Linked DNA regions of Homo sapiens. The protein of the gene in region 7 purifies or fractionates together with the protein of the main gene of each other region. This does not show direct contact. Each region holds a gene or a part of one and is shown on either strand. Other genes may lie near its edges.

Region 1 (3,500 bases), on a different chromosome or scaffold from region 7:
TTCACAAGAATATAAATATTCTGAAAGACTCCTGTACACATTAGAATCTTTCGTGGTATAAACGGAAAAGGTAAATATGCTTAAAATTATGATTTAAGAATAAATTCCACTGATAAACAGAGATAATGAATTTAAGGAGGCTGTACATTTTTTTCTCCAATTATGATGCAATGATAGGTTTTACAGGATTGTAAGACAGATGATTCATAATATGAAATCTTGTATCAAACCAAAGAAAAAGCAATATAGAAATGGCACTAACCTAATTTCTTATCACATACAAATGGTATGGCAAAATGTTCATGTTTTACAGTTTTTCGCTATGTGGCACTAGATTACCGAGAGTGAAAAGGGAAGAATTATGGGGAAGCTGTGACATGTACTATAATAACATTCCTATGCTAAAAGCGACAGATTTTAGAAAACTGCCAAAGGTTTTATTTTAAATGGCATTATTAATAATGCATATTCAAAGAAACACCAGATATAATTGTGACCAATACATAATATTTCAAGACCCTGACTTTAAAAAAAAAAATTAGCTAGGCATGGCAACATGCTCCTATAGTCCCAGCTATTCAGGAGGCTAAGGTGGGAGGGCTGCTTGAGCCCAGGAGTTTGAGGGTACAGTGAGCTATGATTCTGCCATGGTACTTTACCCTGGGCAACAGAGCAAGACCCTGTCTCCAAAAAATGAATATATATAAAAATATATTTCATATAAATATGAGATATCATATAATATATATGACATATCATATGATATATATTATATGATATATATGATATATAATATTATGATATATCATATATCTATATATCATATATATTCATATATAATATACATGATATATATTATATGCGATATACATAATATATATAAAGACTTCAAAGAATAATATAAAAGAAATATCTAATTATTTGAAAGTATATTTGGAATTGCATTTTCTAAGAGAATCAAAATAAAATGTTGGGTTTGTTTCCTGGTATAATTCAGAAGACTATTTGGTTCATAATGCATATTTAAATCCACAGCATATTTACAATGAAAATTTATTTAAAGAGACTACTGAAGAAACAATATTTTAAACAGCAAAACTACATAATAACCATAAACTATTGTGAACACTGGTTTAATTTAAAAATAAGCAAGTAGAATAATTCTATTCAGTGGAGCTAAACCTTTGCTAAAAATTTCCAAGGAGTTTCTAAATTTCAGGAATTTGAAAGGCAAAAAGCACCAATTTTATTATGTCTAATGTCAGATCAAAGTTTATGACTTTTCCTTCTTGATGCAGGTATTACACTGACACTAAATTCAAACAGGCTTAGATATTGTTTCTTGGCCTACAAATGTGCCCGTGTTCCATGCAAAACCAGCAGGGGATTTTTCTGCTGCCAGAGGTTACCAAATCAGAGGAAGGAGGCTGGGCGTGGTGGTTCACGCCTGTAATCCCAACACTTTGGGAGGCCAAGGAGGGCAGATCACCTGAGGTCAGGAGTTCGAGACTAGCCTGGGCAGAGTGATACCCTATCTCCCCCACAAAAAGCCAGGCATGATGAAATGCACCAGTACTCCTAGCTACTTGGGAGGCTGAGGCAGGAGGATTGCTTAAGCCCAGGAATTCAAGGCTGCAGTGAGCTATGATCTCACCACTGCACTTCAGCTTGGGTGACAGAGCAAGACCCTGCCTCTAAACAAATAATCTATGAAAGACCCCAATCATCCAGAAATGCGGAAAATTCATTTACTTATGTTTTCCTATTTGATTTTTAAAACATTAACTCCTTATTGCATCTAGTATTTTGGTACTTGGGTGAAAATTATTGATTTTTCCCAAAATGGCAAATCAATTGTTTAGAATCATTTATTAAATATATGCATAGATTATTTAGATGTTGCATTTGTTCTAAGTCAAAATTAAAAAATGTTTTACTGAAAGTATTATGTCTAATAAATGATCTACCACTGCAAAAATATTAAACGCCTCTGCCATAACTAATTTTTAAAGCACATCTATTTGCAGATTAAGATATAATAATGTATGGTATATTTCAAAATAAGTAAATTTCAAATGTCTCACAATAAATGATAGGCAAGAAAGGTGATCAATATGCTAATTATGTTAATTAGCTTGATTTAAACATTCCACATTGTACACATACACCAAAACATCACATTGTACCCCATAAATGTATACAATTATGATCTGTCAATAAAAAATAATCTTATTAAAAAATTTTTTTAAAGATGTATTAAATCCTTTTTCTGCAGACAGAACACATCTTACCAAGCCTGAGTTTTGAGATTTGACTCAGAAAGTAGTACCATATATTTCTTGATTTACCTCCATTAATTTTTCTTAAGCTTTACTGAAGCTCCAAATTACAGTCCAACTGCTCAATACCAACCTTCTTGAGGTCAATTTTATAATAACAATACTTACCAACAGCAAGGAGAAGAATACTGGCTACAAAACAGCCTGCACCCACACTGAGGTAATAAACACCTACTCTCATTTCTGCTGGCCAAAGGGGGAAGAGGGTGGCCGCTATTACTGCAATCACTGGAACAAGAAATGACAAAAGTTAAATTTTAGAATAAAAACTTAAATGGTATGGCTGCACTAACAGAAACATATCCCTGGGGGAAAAACTGAGAAACATAAACACAGTGAAATATAAAATTGCCATTTTTATAGGTAAAAAATGGTCAATTATGAGCAATTTCATATTGTTCAACCTAACATTTTATACTATTCTTAAACTAGTTTTTATTAGTGTAAATTACATATAATTAGAAAAAAATGCTATGTAGAAATTCAAAACTGTTGCCTCCTTAATTTATCAACTGCCCCCTTTTTCAAGCTATATCTACTTTATTTAAAAAATACTAAGATATTTGCCTACTAAGTAAGGGAGCTAAAAGAAACAACAGAACAACAAAGCCAACAAAAAATGATTTCCAAGACCCCTCTCTGGAGATTCTTCTTCTGGGGTGGAGCTCTGACATCCACAGACTGAAAGATTCCCCAGGTGATTTCTGCTACAGATGTATTTTTTGGTGCTTAGGGAAACTGTTTACAAGTGTCTCCAGTTTTTTTGCAAGTAAAGTGGGGACACAAGAAAGAATTATAAGAAATTAGAAGCCTGGTTATTAGGTCTTTAGAATAAGACCAGGATTAAAATTCTAGCTCCATCACTTATAAGCTATGTAACCCTGGGCAAGTTACTTAACTCTTTTGAGGCTAAGTTACCTTATATTTAATAAGTCTCTTCCTATTCTTCAAAGGTTGTTGTGAGGATGAAATGATATATTGTACGCAAAATATCTAGCAAAGTGACTAGTACTCTTATTATAAAAGAGTTATTTTGCTTTTTGTTTTCTGAAACAGAGTCTTACTCTGTCACCCAGGCTGCAGTACAGTGGCATGATCTTGGCTCACGACAGCCTCGACCTCCTGAGCTTAGGTGATCCTCCCACCTCAGCCTTCTAAGTA
Region 2 (3,500 bases), on a different chromosome or scaffold from region 7:
AATAATGAGGATTCCTTAACTTTTCTACCTCCCTCTTCCCATACAACATCTAGCTGAAATTCTCCATAGTTTTATAACAAGCACTGTACCCAGCTATAAAGAAGGAAATCCAGTCTTTTGAGATCTGGAGCCTACTTCAATGATTATATAATTTCTCTTAATTGTTTTTAATTATTTCCCAGGAGAGCATGGTTCATTAGAACCATCACCAAAAATTCCAGTCTGTTTCCTTCCAGTAAAATGCACTTAATGAGAAAATGTGTAGTCTGTACAAAGCACTGAAAAGTAGCTCAGCCAACCCCACCTTCCCAGCTACCCACTTGAAGAGCAGTGAGTATATTATCAAAGTTATGTAACAGCAATAACCACAGTCAAGCTGACCCTGAAATATTTCAGCATACCAGATCTTTCCACTGATGATCTGCACTTTACACTGCCAAAATGTGAAACTAAAGAATGTTGGTTCAAGGAACCATATCAGCAATGCCCTGTTTTAGATGGAATATGAAAACACCAATCAAAGCCATAGACTTCAGCTCTGATTTCCCACTGGTCTAGCATCCCTTTACTGCAGAAGAGTTGGGAAGTATGAATCAGCACAGTGAACTTGGTTATTATGAATCAGCACAGAGAACTTGGTTATTCTGCTGGGAAAAGGAGAGAGGAAGTCATACCGCATGCAATGGAAATCAATGTTATAAGTTCATAATGTGGTCTACTTGTTTGGTCCATAAGGATATTAATGTGCATGTCTCTCTCATTTGAGGTTTATTTTCTTAGAAGTACTAGCACTACCTCTCCCAGAACCTTAAAATTTTAAAAATCCCTTGAAAGCACCCAAGAAAACTAAATAATAAAGTATTTGTAAGTCTTATAAGTAGTAAAATGCCTCTGAACTGTTACAGCCACTTAAGGAAGCATTTAACTTGACAAAAATCTGTTGTAGACAAATATGGTACCCAGTCCAGGCTGTTAGAGTCTTCTCTCTTCACAGCCCCGAGTCCTTTGATTTTAGACAGATGGATGGTATTCTTTTATGAGGCAATTCTTTGTTGGTATTCCAATAAGGCTGACTTGCAACCATCTTCTTCAAAACTTTTCAAAATATTGATATATCATTAACTTGAAAAGAAAATACCATTTAAGAAATTAAAATCTCCCTGCATAATATTTAACTATGAAGTAATGACTGATTTTTAGACAAAGGTGTCAGAACTTATATATCCTAAAGGATGCTTCCCTTCCAGGATATATATTGTTACTCAAAAATATTTGAAACTTTTCCTTTGGAACTGCTTCCCAAGCCCATTTCAAGCCACAAACACAAATATTATTATTTTTAGTCACTTACTTAAACAAAAAAATCTAATATAGTTCACTATACGTATGACTAAAAAAAAAAAAACTTGCGGCCGGGCATGGTGGCTCACACCTGTAATCCCAGCACTTTGGGAGGCCAAGACAGGCAGATCACCTGAGGTCAGGAGTTCGAGACCAGCCTGGCCAACATGGTGAAACCCTGTCTCTACTAAAAATACAAAAATTAGCCAGATGTGGTGGCACTTGCCTGTAGTCCCAGCTACTCAGGAGGCTGAGGCATGAGAATCATTTGAACCCAGGGGGCGGAGGTTACAGTGAGCCAAGAACACACCACTGCACTCCAGCCAGGACAACAGAGCAAGACTGCCTCAAAAAAAGAAAAAAAGAAAAAAAAAATTGCAGCAGTCCAAAAATCATACCTACCATAAGAATTTAGTGAAGGCCCTCAAAGCATTTCCAAAAGAGGTACTCCAAGACCTCCCTGAGTGCTGCAACAAAGTGGCACAATGGACAGGAAGAGCAACCATTTAATCATTTCCAACAGATTATTGAACAATTGCTCTCATTCATAAGAAGTGACACCTCGTATTACCTAACTACATATTAGTTAGCTAGGGCCAACTTAAGATAAATTTTTTTTTAAGTATTCTACTATTTCCTCCTCTTTTGTCTTCTAGAATATGTTCTATGTGCATATACACACACTTACCATCTGGAGCATATTTTGAGGATATTCCTAAAATGATTGCAAGTGCAATAAAAAATGAGAAACTAGTAATAGCAAAACAAATGAAAGTATTTTTGTGTCTCTTTTGCTTTTGACTTTCTCTCTGGGCTTGCTGTTCTTCAGGTGAGAATGCGAAGGTTGCCCGGTCTTCTCGTCTGATGGAGGTAAATTTGGCTGAAGCTTGACTCTTTGGAGGAGGAGGGGGACGCAATGGGACAACCTTCCCTGGAACATAGCCAGATGGGTGACGACTATTTCCATTCTGAGGTTGGAGGAAAGCAGGGGAGTGTCCCCTGGAATCAGTGGCATACATGATACACTGTTACTGTGAAAAGAAAAAAAAATTAAGCTTCAGTATGTGTAAATTCTTTTTTAATTTCTTTTATTTATTTATTTATGAGATGGAGTTTCACTCTTGTTGCCCACACTGGAGTGCAATGGCATGATCTCGGCTCACCGCCACCTCTGCCTCCCAGGTTCAAGTGATTCTCCTGCCTCAGCCTCCCGAGTAGCTGGGATTAGAGGCATGCACCACCACGCCCAGCTAATTTTTTTTTTTTTTTTTAAGTAGAGACAATGTTTCTCCATGTAGGTTAGGCTGGTCTCGAACTCCCAACCTCAGGTGATCCACCCACCTCAGCCTCCCAAAGTGCTGGGATTACAGGTGTGAGCCACCGCAACTCGCCTTTAATTTCTATTTTTTAGAGACAGGGTCTCACTCTGTTGCCCAGACTGAAGTGCAGTGGCATGATCATAGATCACTACAGTCTCGCACTCCTGGGCTCAAGCAATCCTCCTGCCTGAGCCTCCCGGGTAGCCAGGACTACAGGTACATCCCACGATGATTGGCTAATTTTTAAATTTTTTGTAGAGATGGGATCCTGCTATATTGCCTAGGCTGGTCTCAAACTCCGGAGCTCAAGTGATTCTTCCACCTCAGCCTTGCAAAGTGCTGGGATTACAGGCGTGAGCCCCAGTATCCAGCTGGAATGTATGAATCATAAATGGTTTTTTTAAAGTACTTTTTAAATTGTGTTAAATATACCATAAACTTACATTTTAACTATGTTAAGCGTACAATTCAATGGCATTACGTACATTCACAAAGTTGTGTGACCATCACCACTATCCATTTTCAGAACTTTTTCATCATCCCAAACAAAAACTCTATATCCATTAAGTAACTCTCCATTTTTCCCAGCCCCTGGTAACCATCATAATGACTTCTTGAAAATATCAAGTCAGCTTACATCCCTGATCTAATAAACCATGTTGACAATCACCTTCATTACTTGTGTTCTAATGTCACTCCTTCTCAACCCTGGCTGCATAGTGTAATCACCCGCTAAGGTGAATGCTCAGGGCACCACGGCTAAACAATTCAATCAGGATTGCTGTCCCTGGGATCTAAGTATTTGCAGCTTTTAAATGCTCCCCAAGTGATTCTCATGAA
Region 3 (3,500 bases), on a different chromosome or scaffold from region 7:
AAAAACACATGTATATATAGAAACCTAGATTCCTATGTATGTCTGCATATTATAAACACTTTTAAGATAAGTATACGGTTTCGAAAGACAACTACACAATCATAATTACTTTTAAAGAAAATGTGCATGCCCACAGGTCTATAAAGTTACTTCCTATTACCTGTGAAATGGTCTCTAAAGATATACACTATACATATAGCAAAACAGAATAATTGCTTTAAATCTAACTGAGGGCTGGACAAGGCAGCTCACACCTGTAATCTCGGCATTTTGAGAGGCCGAGGCAGGAGGATCATTTAAGGTCAGGAGTTTGAGACCAGCCTCGCCAACATGGTGAAACCCTGTCTCTACTAAAAATAAAAAATTAGCTGGGTGTGGTGGCAGGTACCTGTAATCTCAGCTACTCGGGAGGCTGAGGCAGGAGAATCACTTGAACCCGGGAGGCAGAGGTTGCAGTGAGCTGAGAACGTGCCACTGCTTTCCAACCTGGGCAACAGAGTGAGACTCTGCCTCAAAAAAAAAAAAAAAAAGAAAGAAAGAAAAAATAGTAATAATAGGGCTGGGCACAGTGGCTCACACCTGTAATCCCAGCACGTTGGGAGGCCAAGGCAGGTGGATCACCTGAGGTCGGGAGTTCAAGACCAGCCTGACCAACATGGAGAAACCCCGTCTCTACTAAAAATACAAAACTGGCCAGGCATGGTGGCCCATGCCTGTAATCCCAGCTACTTGGGAGGCTGAGGCAGGAGACTCACTTGAACCCAAGAGGCAGAGGATTTGTGATGAGCCGAGATTGAGCCGTTGCACTCCAGCCTGGGCAACAAGAGCGAAACTCCGTCTCAAAAAAAAAAAAAAAAAAAAAAAACCACGCACACACAAAAATTATCCAGGCATGGTGGCAGGCACCTGTAATCCCAGCTACTCAGTAGGCTGAGGCAGGAGAATCACTTGAATCTGGGAGGTGGAGGTTTCAGTGAGCCGAGATTGCGCCACTGCACGCCAGCCTGGGTGACAGAGCAAGACTCTGTCTCAAAAAAACCATAATCATAATTATAAAATAAATCTGACACATTTTTCCATAACTTTGAGAAAAATTTTCCAGAGCTTCACAAAATATATCAATGTCAAATACTTACAGTTTGTAATATGAATGCAGAAAATAGATGGATTAATCTGGTCAACAAGTTCAAATACTCTTTGAGGTGGGTTTGCTGTAAAATTCAATGAATAGATGACTGCTTTTTGACTACAAAACTGGCTGTCGCCCCTGAAAATTAAAAAAATAATAATACAAAGTTACAAGACATAAGCACACAATCTTAGCAAAATTATTTTAAAACTGTCAGATGCTTGTACTGTACTATGTTAACAGTTACGTGGAGGATATTTATGAAAGCATGACGTCCCAGCTACTTGGGAGGCTGAGGCGGGAGAATGGCATGAACCCAGGAGGCAGAGCTGGCAGTGAGCCAAGATCGCGCCACTGCACTCTAGCCTGGGCAACAGAGCAAGACTCTGTCTCACAAAAAAAAAAAGAAAGAAAGAAAGAAAAAAGAAAGCATATTAGAATTGAATCCGGCTGGGCACGGTGGCTCACACCTGTAATCCCAGCACTTTGGGAGGCCGAGGTAGGCGGATCACAAGGTCAGGAGATGGGGACCAGCCTGGCCAAGATGGTAAAACCCCATCTCCACTAAAAATACAAAAATTAGCTGGGCGTGGTGGTGGGTGCCTGTAATCCCAGCTACTAGGGAGGCTGAGGCACGAACATCGCTTGAACCCAAGAGGCAGAGGTTGCAGTGACCCGAGATCGCGCCACTGCACTCAAGCCTGGTGACAGAGTGAGACTCCATCTCAAAAAAAAAAAAAAAATTGAATCCTTTTTTTTGAGATGTAGCCTCACTCTCCCAGGCTGGAGTGCAGTGGCACGATCTCGGGTCACTGCAACCTCTGCCTCTTGGGTTCAGGTGATTCTCCTGCCTCAGCCTCCCGAGTAGCTGGGACTACAGGTGTGCACTGCCATGCCTGGCTAATTTTTGTATTTTTATTAGAGACAGGGTTTCACCATGTTGGCCAGGCTGGTCTCAAACTCCTTACCTCAGATGATCCACCTGCCTCAGCCTCCCAAAGTGCTGGGCATGAGTCACCACAGCTGGCTGAATCCATTTTTATTTAGTTTATTCTGTGTTGAAATATTTTGCATTTGGGCCAGTCACAGTAGCATGCACCTGTATTACCAACTACTCAGGAGGTTAAGATGCAAGGCTCACTTGAGGTTAGGAGTTCGAGGCCAGTCTGGCAACATAGTGAGATCCTCATCTCTTTTTAAAAAAGAAAAAGCTTGGCATTTAAAACTTTTTCCTCTAACAGAAAAAAACAAAATTGAGACAAGTAGAATAACCTTTAAGGAAATCTTGTCAAGAACGTAGATCAGGGTATAATTTTTATGTCAGTGAACTTTACAAACTCTGATAGCATCAATTAGATAAAATTTTGCAGACCTTCAGATTGTTTAAAAGTACCCAGAATAGATCCAAATTCCTTGTCTTTAGAATAAAGCTGTCTTCAAAGGACTGTGAGAGTAAGAAAATGTGGAGTCATCTGGAAGGTTTAATGCTTAGAAGTTATGGTACAGGGCCAGGCACAGTGGCTCATGCCTCTAATCCCAGCACTTTGGGAGGCCGAGGCGGGTGGATCACCTGAGATCAGTCGTCTGGAAGGTTTAGTGCTTACAAGTTATGGTACAGGACCAGGCACAGTGGATCATGCCTGTAATCCCAGCACTTTGGGAGGCCGAGGTGAGCGGATCACCTCAGGTCAGGCATTCAAGACCAGCCTGGCCAACATGGCGAAACCCTGTCTCTACTAAAAATACAAAAATAAATTAGCCAGGCGTGGTGGCATGTGCCTGTAGTTCCAGCTGCTGGGGAGACTGAGGCAGGAGTATTGCTTGAACCTGGGAGGTTGCAGTGAGCCAAGATCGTGCCACTGCACTCCAGCCTGGGCGACAGAGTGAGACTCTCTCTCCCAAAAAAAAAAAAAAAAGAAGTTATGAGTTAAGTCTTCAACCAATCCCAGATTTGACAAATCCCAATCAATTTGCTATAGATACAGATACAGGCCAAGCACCATGGCTCATGCCTGTAATCCCAGCATTTTGGGAGGCTGAGGAGGATCACTTGAGGCCAGGAGTTCAAGACCAGCCTGGGCAACACAGACCCCTATCTCTACAAAAAACAAAGAAAAAATTAGTCCGGCATGCTGGCAGATGCCTGTAGTACTAACTACTTGGGAGGCTGAGGTAGGAGGACTGCTTGAGCCCAGGAGCAAGGTTACAGTGAGCTATGATCGTGTCACTGCACTCCAGCCTGGGTGACAGAGCAAGACCTATCTCAAAAAAACATAGAGGCTGGGCACAGTGGCTCACGCCTACAATGCCAGTACTTTGGGAGGCCATGGCAGGAGGATCACTTGAAGCCAGGATTTCAAGACCAGCCTGG
Region 4 (3,500 bases), on a different chromosome or scaffold from region 7:
TCTCTGCTCCCTTTGCTCTCTCTTCTTCTGGGGCTCCTACAATGTTTATGTTGGTTTGCTTGATGGTATCCCACAGACCCCTTAGGCTCTGATCACCTTTATTCAATCTTTTTATTTCTGCTCCTCAGACTCAATAATTTCCATTTTTGTATCTTCAAGTTCCCTGATTCTTTATTCTGCCTGCTGAAATCTGCCTTTGCATTTCTCTAGTGAATTTTAAATTTCAGTTATTGTACTTTTCAGCTCCAGAATTTCCCTTTGGTTTCTTTTTAAAATTTCTAGCTTTTTATTGATATTTTCATTTGTTCCTACATTTTCTTTCACTTTCTCCACATTTTCCCTTAGTTATTTGAGTATCTTTAAGATAGTTCTTTCAAAGCCTTTGTCTAGTAGATCTACCACCAAGTCTTTTTCAGTGACAGTTTCTGTTGTTTTTTTTTCCTTTGAAATAGGAAAGTTTCTTTGTATGCCTTGTGAAATCAAAATCTCTTTCTTCCCCAGAGTTTGCTGGTTTTTCTTGTTTTTATAATTTTGATTGTTGCTGTCTCTGTGCTAAGGATCAGCATAAAGTATAAACTTAAGGTCTTCTTAGGTCTTTTCTAAGCCCGTGACTTCCCCTGAGCATGTGCAATGACTTTTTTATTTTCTCCACATATATGGTTGCTTTTGAATGTGCTAGTCTTCAATGTCTACGTCTCAAAAGAGGAAAAAGAGAAAAATGAAGGGAGAAAAGGGTGCCAGCCCTTTAAATCTCCTGGAAGTCACTTCAACCAGACGGAGAAGGGCTTGCAATGACGGGGTTAGTTGCAACAACAAAGTCTGTGTCAATAGATTTTGAAAGATCTACATCATACAAGATATCTTTTCAGACCACAAAGGAGTAAAGTTAAAAATCAGCAACAAGGACATTTAAAAAATCACGAAATTAAACAACACCCTGTTAAATAACCAAGGATCAGAGAAGAAATCACAAGGGAAATTATAAAATACTTAGAGATGAGTGAAAATGAAAACACAAATTTAAAAACTTGTTCGACAGTGAAAGCAGTGCTAAGGGGGAAACTGATGGCTATACATGCTTATATTAAAAAAGACAGGTCTCAAATAGGAGCTTAACCTTACAATGTAAGGAACTAGAAAAAGAACAAGCTAGCAGAAAGAAGGAAAAAATAAAGATCAGAGCAAAGATAAACAAAATGGAGAACAGACAGATAATAGAGAAAATCAATGACAACAAAAGTTGGTTCTTTGAAAAGATAACAGAATTGACCAGCCTTAAGCTAGATTCTAGACTAAGAAAAAAAGAAGAAACTCAAATTACTAAAATTATAAGTGAAAGTGGCAACATTGCTACTAATTCTACAGAAATAAAAAAGATTATAAGAGTGTACTATAAGCAACTATATGTCAACAATTTGAATAACACAGATGGAATGGAAAAATTTCCAGACAGACAAAACCTATCAAGACAAAATCAAATCATGAAGAAATAGAAAATCTGAATAGACATAACTAGTAAGGAGATTGAATCAATACTCAAAAATCTCCTGACAAACAACCTCTGGACCTGATGGCTGCACTGGTGAATTCTACCAAACACATAAAGAACTAACACCAAACCCTCCCAAAATTTTCAAAAAACTTGAAGAGAAGGGAACACTATTTAACTCATTCTTATGAGGCCAGCATTACTCTGATACCAATACCAGACAAAGATATTGCAAGAAAAGAAAACTACAATCCAGTCTTCCTTATGAACATTGATGCAAAAATCCTAAACAAAATACTATTAATAGTAAACTAAATTTGGTATAATTTGATGCAATTAAATGGAATTTAATGAATTGACCAAGTAGGATTTATTTCTGGAGTGCAAGGATAGTTCAACATACAAAAAAAAAAAAATCAATCAATGTAATACACATTAACAGAATGAAGGAGGAAAAAAAACTCACACATGATCATTGCAGTTGATGCAGAGAAACCATATGACAAAATTCAATACCCTTTCATGATAAAAACACTCAACAAATTAGGAATAGAAGGAAACAACCTTAACATAATAAAAGCCATATTATACGAAAAAGCCACAGTGAACATCATACTCAGTGGTGAAAGACTGAAAGCTTTTCCTCTAAGGTCAGAAATAAAGGAAGGATGCCTGCTTTCACTACTTCTATTTAACACTGTACTGGAAGTTCTGGCCAGAGCAATTGGGCAAGAAAAAGAAATTAAAGGCATTCAAATTGGAAAGAAATAAGTAAATTATCTCTGATCACTGATGATATGATCTTGTATGTAGAAAACCCTAAAAATTCCACAAAAACTGTTACAACTAATAAACAAATTCAGCAAAATAGCAGAATACATAGTAAACACATAAAAATCACTTGTATTTCTATTCACTAACAATGAACAATCCAAAGGAAATTAAGAAAACAATTCTATTTACTATAGTATCAAAAATAATAAAATACTTAAAAATTGACTTAGGAGGTGAAAGACCTGTACAATGAGAACTACAAAACATTTCTGAAAGAAATTGAAGAGGACATTTAAAAAAAGACATTCATGTTCATAGATTGGAAGACTTACTATATTAAGATGTCAATACCACCCAAATTGATCTAGAGGTTTAATGTAATCCCTATAAAAATCCCAGTGATTGTTTTTTTTTTCAGAAATAGTGAATAAATCCTAAAATTTAGATGGAATCTCAAGGGACCTCGAATAGCCAAAAAAAAAAAAAAAAAAAAAAAAAAAATCGTGAAAGATAAGAACAAAGCTGGGGGACTCACATGTCCTAATTTCAAAACTTACTACAAAGCTGCAGTCATCAACAGTGTGGCACTGGCATAAAGACAGACATACAGACCAACAGAATAAAACAGAGAGTCCAGAAAGAAACCCTTGCATATATGACTTTCAATCAAGCCGTCAAGACCATTCGATAAAGACAGTCTTTTCAACAAACGGTGCAGAGACAACTAGATATCCACATGCAAAAGAATGAAGTTAGACCCTTACCTAATACCATATACAAAAATTAACTCAAAATGGATCTTTACGTTTTAAGACCTAAAACTTTAAAACCCTTAGAAGAAAACATAAGGTAACACCTTCGTGACATGGGACTGAGCAATGATTTCTTGGGTATGACAATAAGAAAAAATAGATAAATCAGATTACACCAAAATTTAAAAACATTTTTTGCATCTATCTAGTGAAAGGACATCATTAACAGAGTAAAAAGAACCCAGAGAATGAGAGAAAATATCTGTAAACTGTGTATCTAATAAGGGATTAATATCCAGAATATACAGAGAACTCCTAAAATTCAACAACAAAAAACAATCAACTTGATTCAAAAATAGGTCAAGGACTTAAACAGATATTTCTCCCAAGAGATATATAAATGGCCAACAAGCACATGAAAAGATGCTCAACGTCACTAATCATGAGGGAAATGCAAGTCAAAACCACAGTGAGATACCACCTCA
Region 5 (3,500 bases), on a different chromosome or scaffold from region 7:
AGTACAGTGTCAACATTTAGACAATGTGTCCAAGATCAGACTACTACAATGCTAGTAGTAAACAGAAACTATAATTCAAAAGCAGGCAATCTGATTCTTGACCTCTACTCTTAACCACTATGCTTGGCTGCCTGGTTTTTGAGGACTTAGTAAAATGAAAGAAAAAAAAAAGTTACAATAGACTCAAGTTAGAGAGAACTGACCAACGAAAGCAGCAAGAAGGCTATGGTTTTAAAAACAGATTTTAAAATTAATAATACAGTAGCCATTAAAGGAAATTCAATGAAAATAAAGCGTGGGCTAAACGAGTTTACAAACACTATTTATAGACCTTTAATGCTTAAGAAAAACAAAATGACTAGTATATTAGCCATTTTAATGTTTTAGGAAGATGAAAGAAAGCTAAAATTTCAGCCTAATTAACACAATGAAGGGATTAAGAGATTTACTTTCACCTTTGTGGAAAAATAAAAAAATTAAAGTCAAAAAGAGTACATGTACACGCTATGGCAGAGGGCAGTCCATGATGATTATTTTTGTTTTATTTTTACCTAATGGAGTGATGTCCTGAAGTATAGTCCAGTTTCCCAAATTTCTGTGTTCGGTAGCCATGCCTCTCCATGACATCCATCCATGTTGTATAATTTGGATCTAGACCCTTAAAATTATTCCAAGATTCTGTTAAGTGAGTGAAGAGGCCACTCCACATTGCTGAGAAAAAAAAAAAAAGGAATTGGGATTAAGGTAAAGCTTAACAATTTAACTATTAGGACAATTACTCTGAGAGAGCAGTCCACTAGTGAAGAGCTTATGCTCTGCAGTAAGACGTACCCAGATTAGGTGCCTTACCAAACATTTCTGATTGTTACCTCATTTTATCAGAGTGATACTCTGTGGGGAGTTACTATTTCCATTTTACAGATGAGTTGACTAACGCTTAGTGCTTAAGTTACTTAAGGTAAATACAGCTGGAATTAAATACAAAGCATGTGTGACTAGAGGCCTCTTTCAATCATAAAAACAATCCCTAAGTATTTATTGGTTAATTTTCTAAATCAGACAATTGAAGTACAGATCTCATTTCCCCAACATCCTTAAGGATCTTCCCTTATTCCCTGTCCTTTTGCTGGCTTTCCACAAAAAACGTAGTGTGTTATGCCTTATCTCTCACTTTCTACAACTATGATTGTTTATTCAATAAACACTTTTTTTCCTTTTCCCATTTCTGTGTACATAAATAGAAAGTTAGAATAAGCTTTCTGTTTTCATCTAGCAAGATGTTTTCTGAGAGGTGGGATGGGGGATTACCTGGGTTTGAATCCCAATAACACCAGTTACTGAGTGGTCTTTGACAAATTATTTGACCTTGCTTACTCTTCAAAATATACTTCTTCCAGGAAAAACAACATCTAACATTTTGAGACATCTAGGGTTCATTGGCCACTTTCTCATTCGTTATTTAATGTGATGCTCAGAACAACCCTGTGAGGTACACAGTATACACAGCAATTTGCAGATAAGAAGACTGAGTGACTTGCTTGAGGATTAGCATCCAGGTCATTGTCTCACCCTAGCCCACTGCTCATTCTACTTTACAGTTAACAAAACTGTTTTTTAATATGCCTGGTCCTTCATTATTGAAATATCATTTACAATATAGTTTAGTTTCTTTTCATCACTGGTAATAATATAGTTGTTAGTGTTGAAAATATAGGTGAAAGAAGTTATAACTCAAATCACAGAGAAAATCATCTCATTTACAGACAAACCAAATCACTGAGTGCCATTTATGTGTTCCAAGGCAACAAACATAAACCAGAAGACAGGGGAAAAGGAAAACAACCATCAGACAATAGATAGAATTTATAAAAATGGCAGTTTTTTCCTATTTGTTAATTATTCATGGCTTAATGTCACTGACATTCTGCCAATAAAACTATGCCTATTTGTTAAATTATTATAATAAAAGTGAACAATTTGACTTGGGATAAAAGTGAATTGAGACGGAAAGAAAGAGGTAAAGTATGTAATCTGAAATAATAAGAAAAAATTCAGGTAAATCTGAATATAAGTTGTAACTACTTTATGGTATACTCTAATGTTCATAGAAGTCCTCCCAATTACCTATACCGTTACTGAAAAATTTCCCTGGAAACAGAACTCTTCTAGGAAATATGAGTATTCCCTCATTTTCTTGGATGGCCAAAAGATTCTTAGTCCCCAGTCACAAGGAAATAAAACGGTAACACATGAACTAGACACCTTTCTAAATGATAAAAATTCCTACTCTTGAAAAATACAATTTGAACAACCCCAATAGCCAATATATACCTTAAAATGCACATCTTTTATATTAAAACAATTTTATTGAGGCCAAATACAACTATTCTACTTTTAGGTATAATCTTTTAAACTGTGAATATATTTTCAGTGTGTAGCCACTTTCTCCCATTCATATTAAGGATGTTCATACCTGCGCGTGATGGGCAACAAATTGGAGAGTTTGTGTAGGCATTCAGAAAGGAAGTCCCACGTGTCTTCATAAAGTTGATAAAAGGAAGTTTCACTACCTGACTTCCTGGATGAAATGTTAACCTTCCATCCTGGAAATAAAGAAATTTAATTAGCATTGATTACATTACCAAAGAAGAAAATTATTTTCTTTAACCATAAAATTTACAATAGCAGAAGACTTCAATATGATTTTAAGAATCCTCCAAAGATAAAAACAAAACAAGTATAGAGGGTGTTTCCAGTATCTGGTACATAAATAGCTAGAATTCAGTGCAGCGTTACACTTGGATTCATTTAACTACAGTAAATAAAGGACTTCCTGGAATGTTCTTTTGGGGGATGATGAACTGACTAAGTATTTATTGAATACTTAACTATGTGCCAGACACTGCAAAATCTGAGGATGCAATGGTGAATAAAACAGAGTCTTAGGCCCCATGAAGCTTACAGTCTAGTGGGAGAGGCAAAAAGTATACTGGCAAATAAACTATGAATAATTACAAATTATGACGTGTGCTTTGAAAAAAATCCGAGATACAGAAGGACAAGAGAGACCTACGTTAGACAGTGTGGACAGGGAAGCCTTCTCTGGGATGTATGAGACCTAAAGAATGAACAGGATCCAGCTATTCAAAGAATTTAAAGGACATACAAAGTTTGAGATATCTGTGAGATGGAAGTGGTGATATCAATTAGGCAGCTGGGGTGGGGTGTGGTGGCTCATGCCTATAATCCCAGCACTTTGGGAGGCTGAGGTGGGAGGATAGCTTGAGCTCAGGAGGTCAAGACCAGCCTGGGCAACACAGGGAGACCCTGTTTCTACAAAAAAAAATTAGGCAGCTTGATAAGTGAGTCTGAAGATTAGGAGATGTTTGGGTTGGAGATATGCATTTTGGAGATGAACTGGGAATTGAAGAACTCACGTTGGTAAAGAGCAAGAACAGAAAAAAGAATGTTCCAGTCCTGGAGTTCTATCTATTATATGT
Region 6 (3,500 bases), on a different chromosome or scaffold from region 7:
ACCATGCACAAAGTAAACTTTTTTTCTGAGACCGAGTTTCGCTCTTGTTGCCCAAGCTGGAGTGCAATGGCACGATCTCAGCTCACTGCAACCTCCGCTTCCTGGGTTCAAGAGATTCTCCTGCCTCAGCCTCCCGAGTAGCTGGGATTACAGGCACATGCCACCACACCTGGCTATTTTTTTGTATTTTTTAGTAGAAATGGGGTTTCACCATGTTAGCCAGGCTGGTCTTGAACTCCTGACCTCAGGTGATCTGCCCGCCTCGGCCTCCCAAAGTGCTGGGATAACAGGAGTGAGGCACCGCACCTGGCCAAAATAAACTTTTAAAGGTGAGCTACAGAATCTGATCATGTTGATAAATCCCCTTTCTTGTGAGAAGACACATGCTGAGTTTTGGTGTCACCTAACGGCATGTGGCCTCAGCGGACATCACCTCTGACATCCCCCACTTCCCTCACCTCCCATCTGAGTCTCATGAGAATGACTGGGGCAGCGGGTAAGAGAGGGGCACAGAGGACACTGAGTTCAAAGCCCAGGCCCACAACTTGCTGTCCAGGGGATACTGACCCAGTGAGCACAGTTCCTTGAGCCTCATGTTTCCCAAATGCAAACAGAATAAAAATATACCTCAGAGGGCGGCTCGGAAGACCAATGAGATTGAAACCCAGTAAAGTACACTGCAAACTGTAAAGCACATTCAGGCGCAGTCTTTTTATTTGCAATGACTCCTGCAGGCTGGCAATCTCTCCGGGAGCACCCTCCACCCGGAGAGGGAGCACCAAGATGACCACCCTCTTCCTCACAGGGTATGGCATCCTTGAGGGAACCTTGTTGCGACACTTTGCCAAAGGCTTACCCTACCTTTGTTTTTATCCATGTAACTTTGATTTCCTATTAAATCCATCCTATTAAAGCCACTCTCCTATTTCCCATAAGATTTTTTGGTTTCGTTTCTGTACCCCATCCAAATTATTTTCTTACCCTGGGATGCCTCAACCTAAAAGCAACATTTAGGCTGTCTCAGAGTTCTGTAAACTTGGCCTCCATTCCATCAATGTCCTACGAGAAGTAACCTCCAGCAGCACTCTACTGACTGGTGTATGTTTTCTATGTTTATTGAGTTCTAATTTATCATCCTTACACTGTGACCCATGGATAGGAGCTGTCCCAACCTCTACGGCTTGATTCTGGGCTAAAAATATTTTTAGGGCTCGCTGTACCCATTTCATTCCTTCTGGAACAATTGCAACTTCAACCCTCTAGATCCAGAATGGGGGTTACGAAGTGAGAGGCCTTCCAGAGTGCACCCCTCATCCCAGCTAGGGAATGATCAGGAATTTAGGTGCACAAGAAGCCTGCAGAGAGCCATGGAGCCAGAATGTCAAGCCAGCAAGGGCTGGGTGGAAGTCAGCAGCCTTGGGCTCCGCCAGGAACTCCATGGGACTGTGGAGGATCCACCTTTTTTCTAGGCTCAGTTCTCTCATCCATACAATTTGGAGGCTGAATTAGTTGTTCTGCTGTCCAGGGCCCCCTTTCACTCTAAAACCCCATGACTGGGTGAGATGTCTTCTCCCACTTCTGGTTTCCTCCTGACCCTGCCCAATACTCTCGGCTCCCCAGGCAAGGCTCATGTTCAGCTGGTCAGGAATGCTGCACAACCAACAGTGACAGAGCAGCCCTGATGCACAGAGCTCTGTGAGGGGCACAAAAATAGACGTGACCTGTGCCTCTCCCAAATGGAAATTAACAAGGTGAACTAACATGGAGAAGTAACACAGGAAAAGGCTCTAACGCAGACGTGATGACAAGCGGAACCAGCCACAGGGGAAGGCCAGCTCCCCGCGACAAGGGTGCCGTGTTCAAGAGGACAAGGACCACGGCCTGGCTGTGCCCACCTTCAGTTCCTCAGGAATGTGCTTCTCTTCTGGCAACTTCCTCACTTCCGGCATGGTTGTCAGGAACAGAAACTCCTGTTTGGCACTGTACACTGGAAGACAGAGAGGTTGAATGTCTTCTCTAAAAGGAAAAGGCACACAGGTGGATGGGACAGAACAGAGGCCCCAGAAATAGAAGCTCTCAAAGATGCCCAAATGCCTTTTGACAAAGCCATAAAAGCCATTCAGCGGAGGAGGGCAGTCTGTCCAACAAATGGTGCTGGGGCACCTGGACATTCACACACGGAACAAACCTTGATCCAAACCTCACCCCTTATTCAACAATGAACTCAAAGTGGATCACAGACCTGAATGTGAAACATAAAACCATCAATCTTTTTAAAAAACAACCAAAGAGAAAATCTACACTGTGAAAGCCCATTTGAAGAGGAGGAAAAGACAAGCTCCAGATAGGGAAAAAATATTTATGAACCACTTATCTGACCAAGGACTCCTATCTAAAATATATAAAGAATCCTCAAACTCAACAATTAAAAAACCAACCAATCTAATTAGAAAATAGGTACGATACACCCAGACATTTCACTGGAGAGTATCCGCAGATGGCAAATAAGTACATGCAAAGATGGTCAAGGCTGCAGAGACCTTCACATCACAGGCTCTGCCCTCAAGCGGCTCAGAACCAATGAGGAAGTCAACCAGGAGAGGAAAAACCAGCGCCTACAAACACAAACCAGGTCCACAAGGGCATCATTTTGAGTCTTGCCATATGATTCCATCACATTCCCTTCGCTGAGGGGGATTTATTTTCTTATGAGAAAGTCTAGTTACAACACCTGATCCTAGTTCAATATGATACTGAAATTTGCTAACTGAGGATAAATCATTGCCACAAATATCACTGGCTCCACTGCTGAGCTGAACAGAAACTGTAACACTAAAAAAAGTAAGTGTTGCTTTAAACAGCAACTCACGACAACCATGCTCTTCCTAGGGGCTCCAGTGGCAGGAGAAACCGGGAAAGGCAGGTAGGTGAGAAGAACATGCACACCACTGATGGGGGTTCTGAGGCTGGCCCTGTCCCAGAGGACAGAGCTGAAAGGAGCAGCCCGGGAGCACTGAGGCCAAGGCTTCTCCACGCACTTTCCAGGAAATGGAACTCCCCACCGTGGACACTGCCGTGTCTGTTATTTCCTGGTCTTGACACTTCACAATGGGCTTCTGGTTCATAATCAAAAACACCGTGAACGTGTGTGAAATAAACTCCAACATGTGAGAAGCCCTTTATGGCCACGAGCTTAGAGGGGTTCCTGTGCTGCCCAAGATCCAGGCTCCGGGACACACTCTCTAAAGCACAGTGCTGGAAGGGCAGGCTCCAGGGGAGAGGCCTACACCACCCCAGCCCAGGGCCTCTCTGACGCCTGCAGGGGCAGGCTCTGAGTGTAAATGCTCTTGATGCTTCAGCCCAGCGTCCTTGTGCACTGGCAAGATGCTGGGTGCCAGCTCGCATCCTGCATCCAGAACTCAGCTGGCGGATATCCACCTTCAGGATCCTAACCTAACCAGGTCCCTTGGGACAATTAGGTAACATCTCACGCGAGTGAG
Region 7 (3,982 bases):
TCTTCTTCTTTTTTTTTTTTTTTTTGACGGAGTCTCACTCTGTCGCCCAGGCTAGAGTGCAATGGCACGATCTCGGCTCACCGCAACCTCCGCCTCCAGGGTTCAAGTGATTGTCCTGCCTCAGCCTCCCGAGTAGCTGGGACTAAAGGCATGTACCACCGCACCCGGCTAATTTTTTGTATTTAGTAGAGAAAGGGTTTCACCGTGTTAGCCACTGACCTCGTGATCTGCCGGCCTCGGCCTCCCAAAGTGCTGGGATTACAGGCGTGAGCCACCGCGTGTGGCCCCACTAATGGTTTTTTCATGACCTATCTTGTGTGCTCCTAGGTAAGATCAGATGGAGAGCAGGAGAACTACCTGAGACACTTTTGAGGGACAGGCATGTAGGAACTGGTGCAATTTGAGGTCAGAGCAAGGTAAAGGTCTCACTGTGAGAATCGAGGAAAACCCTGTGTTACTGGGGAGTGGGTTGGGGAGCTGAGAGAATCCCCCCTTCACTCTCTGTTCTCACAGGTGCATAAGAAGAGAGGCATGATGAGGTCTGAAGGCAGGGCAGGGCCGGTAGCTGAGAGAAGTAGTTTCTCTGGTCTTTCACTGAGTGTGTGGCAGCTACTGCCCGAGGTTGGGCAAGGGATGGGAGCCCTGAGAGATTCTTGAGGTGCAGAGATAGAGGCTTGCTGAGGATGAAAGTGGACAGGAAAGCTAAGAGAGGCTCCAATGCTGACCATGGCACTCTGCAAGAAGAGAAAAAATGTGTATGTAGAGGTTTCTGAGGGAAAATCGTGAGTCTGGTTTTGGATATATATTACTTTTGAAATCAAGTGTCCAAGTAGATATACCAGTTATGCAGTTGGATAATTTATTATAAGCCTGGAGTTCAAAAGGAGGTCCAAAAGGAGAATTGAAAGGGATGAGACTTGCTGAGCCCCTCCAAAGAGTGTGTGGTGAGGGAGAAGAGAAGAGGACCAGGAACTGAGCTCTGGAGCTCTCCTGTAGGAGGTGTGAAGCAAAAGATGAGGAAGAAACAAAGGAAGCCGAAGTGGTAGCTCCAGTGAGACAGGCTGAGAATCAAGTGAATGAGCCGTCCTGGAAGCCAAATGAAGAAAGTATACTGTGAAGAAGGAAGTGATTATTTGTGTCAAATGCTGCTAATAGGTCGATTAAAGTTGTAGTGAAAAATGATCATTGGATCTAGCAATGTGGAGATTATTCATAACTTTGACAAAAGTGGTGTCAATAGCATGATCGAAAAAGGGGGAGAGAGCCTGATTGGGATATATTTAAGAAACAATGAGAGCTTGATTGGGATATATTTAAGAAACAATGAGAGGAGAGGAATTGAAGACAGAGAATATGGACAACTATTCTAAGATGTTTTGCTGAAAAGTAGAGCAAAAAAGGGGAGGACAGCTGGCATCAGAAGAAAAGCAAGGAAATTCTTTTTCTTAGATCAGAAAAACAACAGCATATTTGTATGCTGATGGTAATAATTTACTAGCATCAAAATTGATGACACAGTCATGATATAGTGAACTGCAACAGGAAAATCCCCAAGTACACAGTGAAGACGGAATATACACAAATTTAAAAATTATTTGAATCTCTGAAACATCTGTTTTGATATTAACCTTTCATTCCTGCAATAGTTATTTTAAGCATGTTCTCATTTTCTCTTGTTCAGTGTTGCCAGGTTATTATAAAGTGTATTAGACTTTTTGAAAAACATTTTTTAAAATACTGTTTTTTCTCATTTGTTTCATTAATTTATATTTTGTATTTATAATTTTCCCTTTATCTTCTTTAGGTTTATTATGCTGTTTTTTTTTTCCAAAAGCCCCCAAAATGCATGCTTAGCCCAGTAAATTTTAGCCATTTTTGTATTGAAAGTTATGTTACCCATTTCTGTGTGGTTACCTGTAATATACCTTGAGCAGCACTTGTTGGTGTCTTTGCTCCTTATTAATTCACTTGTCTGAAGTTCCTTTAACTCTCCTTTCTACTCTTCAGTTGCACTTTGAAAATCATTTTTTATTCATAACCACATAAAACATAATTTATTTTGAAAAGTCTCTCATATAATTTTCATTTATTCTAGGATTATAGTTTTTCTGTTTCTTCGAATAAAACCTTCAGATTTGTCAACACCCATTTAGAGTAGCTCCTATTGATAGGATACCATCCATCTCTTTTGACCTATTAAGTGAATATAATAATAGATGCCACCGAAATTCAATCCTGTCAGATCTAACTGCCTGCATATAAATTTCCATGTCCCGCAAAGGCATCTCATTGAGGTCATGTTCTGTTGTATCCTTACTTTGTATCTTGAGGTGCTTGGTGGGGCATGGAAATTTACATGTAGGCAGTTTCATCTGACAGGATTGAATTTCAGCAGCATCCATTATTATATCCACTCACTAGGTCAAAAGACATGGATGGAATCTTATCAAGAGGACATACTGCTAAATGAGTCTCTTTTCTATTTTTCCCTATTATAATCCTAGTGAAGCTGTAAATATTAGGTTCTTGAACCCACAGGACTGATTCTAGGTTCTTGTCTGGCCAGGGATATAGCATTCTCATCTGCAGAACCTTATAGTAATGAGCTACCAACTTACCTGGGGATAAGAGAATTGAAAAAAGAAGGAGAATAAGGAGAAGCAAATGGAGTCTCATGGCTGAAGGGCCAGCATCAATGTGGGTTGAGCCTGGAGTCTCTGGGCATCGTGGGTCTAGGCCTTTTTATGATGCTCTCTGAGTCTGTGATTTGTTCTTGGTCAGTAGAGCCTAACGAAAAGAGAATAACTAAATCTCCCACGGGAAACTTCCAGGGACACATAAGTACATAAAGGTGGTGATATCTCAATGGATGAGAAAGCAGGTGAATGCTATTTATTTCCCAAAGATTCAGGATGTCTTTATTGTCACCTGCTTTCTTTATTATTTTTGACATGCATATGCAATAATCATTGATCTCACTTTATACATCTATTGTTTGCCAGGCAATATAGTAGGAACTGAAGTAAAATTGTTATACACAAAAAGTACATAATTAATGGATATAGTTTGGCAAGTTTGCACATAAGTATTATCTTGTTACCACACCAATATCCAGGTAATAATATATCCATCACCTCCAAATGTTTCCTACGTCCCTTTGTTGTGGTTGTTGTTGTTGTCAGAACCCCTAAGATCGACCCTCTTAACAAATTGTTAAATACAAAATACCTTATTGTTAACTATAAGTACTATGGTTTGGAGCCTATCTCTGTAATTGATTCATTTTTTATAGCTTTAACCCTTGAACAATAACTCCCCATATTGCTCTTTCCCCACTCAGTAAAACACCAAACTCTTTTAAAGCACATTCTATATAATCCACTTTATGAAGCTTTTCCTAACACTCTTCTATCTGTTCCCCCCCCCCACCCAAGTAAAGGGAACTACTAATATAACAATTACCTATTTTGGATTATTGCATCTTTTACAAACATTCCTTCATGAACCCATTTAACACTTATCTCCATTATCTTATTATGAAGTAAAATAAAACTTGACTTGATTTTAAAAATGAAATCACAAAAGAGCTTTGTAAAATTATGATGTACCATTGCTTATTTGTAAGAATTCAAGTTACACTAGGGGTTTTTAAAAATCTTTTGTTTTTATTTGTTGCATATTGTAAGCACAGTGTCTTTTCCAGCTATTTGCTTTGGGAAGGAAAAGTTAGAGTTACAATGAACATCATAGGCTATCTTGTCTAGTCACTTACATTACAGATGAGGAAATAAGCTGAGGGAAAGGAAGAAACTTGCCCAGGATCACCCAGTGATCTAGCGAGGAAGGCGATAGGGACAGCACTAAGGCTTGGTATTCTGAGCCTCATTCTATTTTCTCCTCTTGCCCCTTCTCTGTTTCCTCCTCTCTTCCCCAGACTTCCAGAAAAACTTTACAGTTCTGCTGCAGTGTCTACCTAAGGACA

Evidence for each region.
Region 1: the proteins of DEFB109B (region 7) and SEC62 purify together in Homo sapiens (affinity purification with mass spectrometry; one large-scale study listed by BioGRID and IntAct). This does not show direct contact.
Region 2: the proteins of DEFB109B (region 7) and CEMIP2 purify together in Homo sapiens (affinity purification with mass spectrometry; one large-scale study listed by BioGRID and IntAct). This does not show direct contact.
Region 3: the proteins of DEFB109B (region 7) and TCTN1 purify together in Homo sapiens (affinity purification with mass spectrometry; one large-scale study listed by BioGRID and IntAct). This does not show direct contact.
Region 4: the proteins of DEFB109B (region 7) and COL6A2 purify together in Homo sapiens (affinity purification with mass spectrometry; one large-scale study listed by BioGRID and IntAct). This does not show direct contact.
Region 5: the proteins of DEFB109B (region 7) and ARSK purify together in Homo sapiens (affinity purification with mass spectrometry; one large-scale study listed by BioGRID and IntAct). This does not show direct contact.
Region 6: the proteins of DEFB109B (region 7) and CHST10 purify together in Homo sapiens (affinity purification with mass spectrometry; one large-scale study listed by BioGRID and IntAct). This does not show direct contact.

Annotation. Positions count from the first base shown.
Region 1 is NC_000003.12:169,987,307-169,990,806, reverse strand, and holds part of SEC62 (translocation protein SEC62), read right to left. Parts: intron 2,568-3,500; coding exon 2,448-2,567; intron 1-2,447. UniProt on the Homo sapiens protein: Mediates post-translational transport of precursor polypeptides across endoplasmic reticulum (ER). Proposed to act as a targeting receptor for small presecretory proteins containing short and apolar signal peptides.
Region 2 is NC_000009.12:71,748,014-71,751,513, forward strand, and holds part of CEMIP2 (cell surface hyaluronidase CEMIP2), read right to left. Parts: intron 2,373-3,500; 5' UTR 2,361-2,372; coding exon 2,030-2,360; intron 1-2,029. UniProt on the Homo sapiens protein: Cell surface hyaluronidase that mediates the initial cleavage of extracellular high-molecular-weight hyaluronan into intermediate-size hyaluronan of approximately 10-5 kDa fragments.
Region 3 is NC_000012.12:110,624,129-110,627,628, reverse strand, and holds part of TCTN1 (tectonic-1 isoform 1 precursor), read right to left. Parts: intron 1,268-3,500; coding exon 1,137-1,267; intron 1-1,136. UniProt on the Homo sapiens protein: Component of the tectonic-like complex, a complex localized at the transition zone of primary cilia and acting as a barrier that prevents diffusion of transmembrane proteins between the cilia and plasma membranes.
Region 4 is NC_000021.9:46,101,112-46,104,611, reverse strand, and holds part of COL6A2 (collagen alpha-2(VI) chain isoform 2C2 precursor), read right to left. Parts: intron 1-3,500. UniProt on the Homo sapiens protein: Collagen VI acts as a cell-binding protein.
Region 5 is NC_000005.10:95,565,101-95,568,600, reverse strand, and holds part of ARSK (arylsulfatase K precursor), read right to left. Parts: intron 2,604-3,500; coding exon 2,474-2,603; intron 712-2,473; coding exon 552-711; intron 1-551. UniProt on the Homo sapiens protein: Catalyzes the hydrolysis of pseudosubstrates such as p-nitrocatechol sulfate and p-nitrophenyl sulfate. Catalyzes the hydrolysis of the 2-sulfate groups of the 2-O-sulfo-D-glucuronate residues of chondroitin sulfate, heparin and heparitin sulfate.
Region 6 is NC_000002.12:100,400,669-100,404,168, forward strand, and holds part of CHST10 (carbohydrate sulfotransferase 10), read right to left. Parts: intron 1,988-3,500; coding exon 1,896-1,987; intron 1-1,895. UniProt on the Homo sapiens protein: Catalyzes the transfer of sulfate from 3'-phosphoadenylyl sulfate (PAPS) to position 3 of terminal glucuronic acid of both protein- and lipid-linked oligosaccharides.
Region 7 is NC_000008.11:7,311,540-7,315,521, reverse strand, and holds the start of DEFB109B (beta-defensin 109B precursor), read right to left. Parts: upstream 2,801-3,982; 5' UTR 2,677-2,800; coding exon 2,619-2,676; intron 1-2,618. UniProt on the Homo sapiens protein: Has antibacterial activity.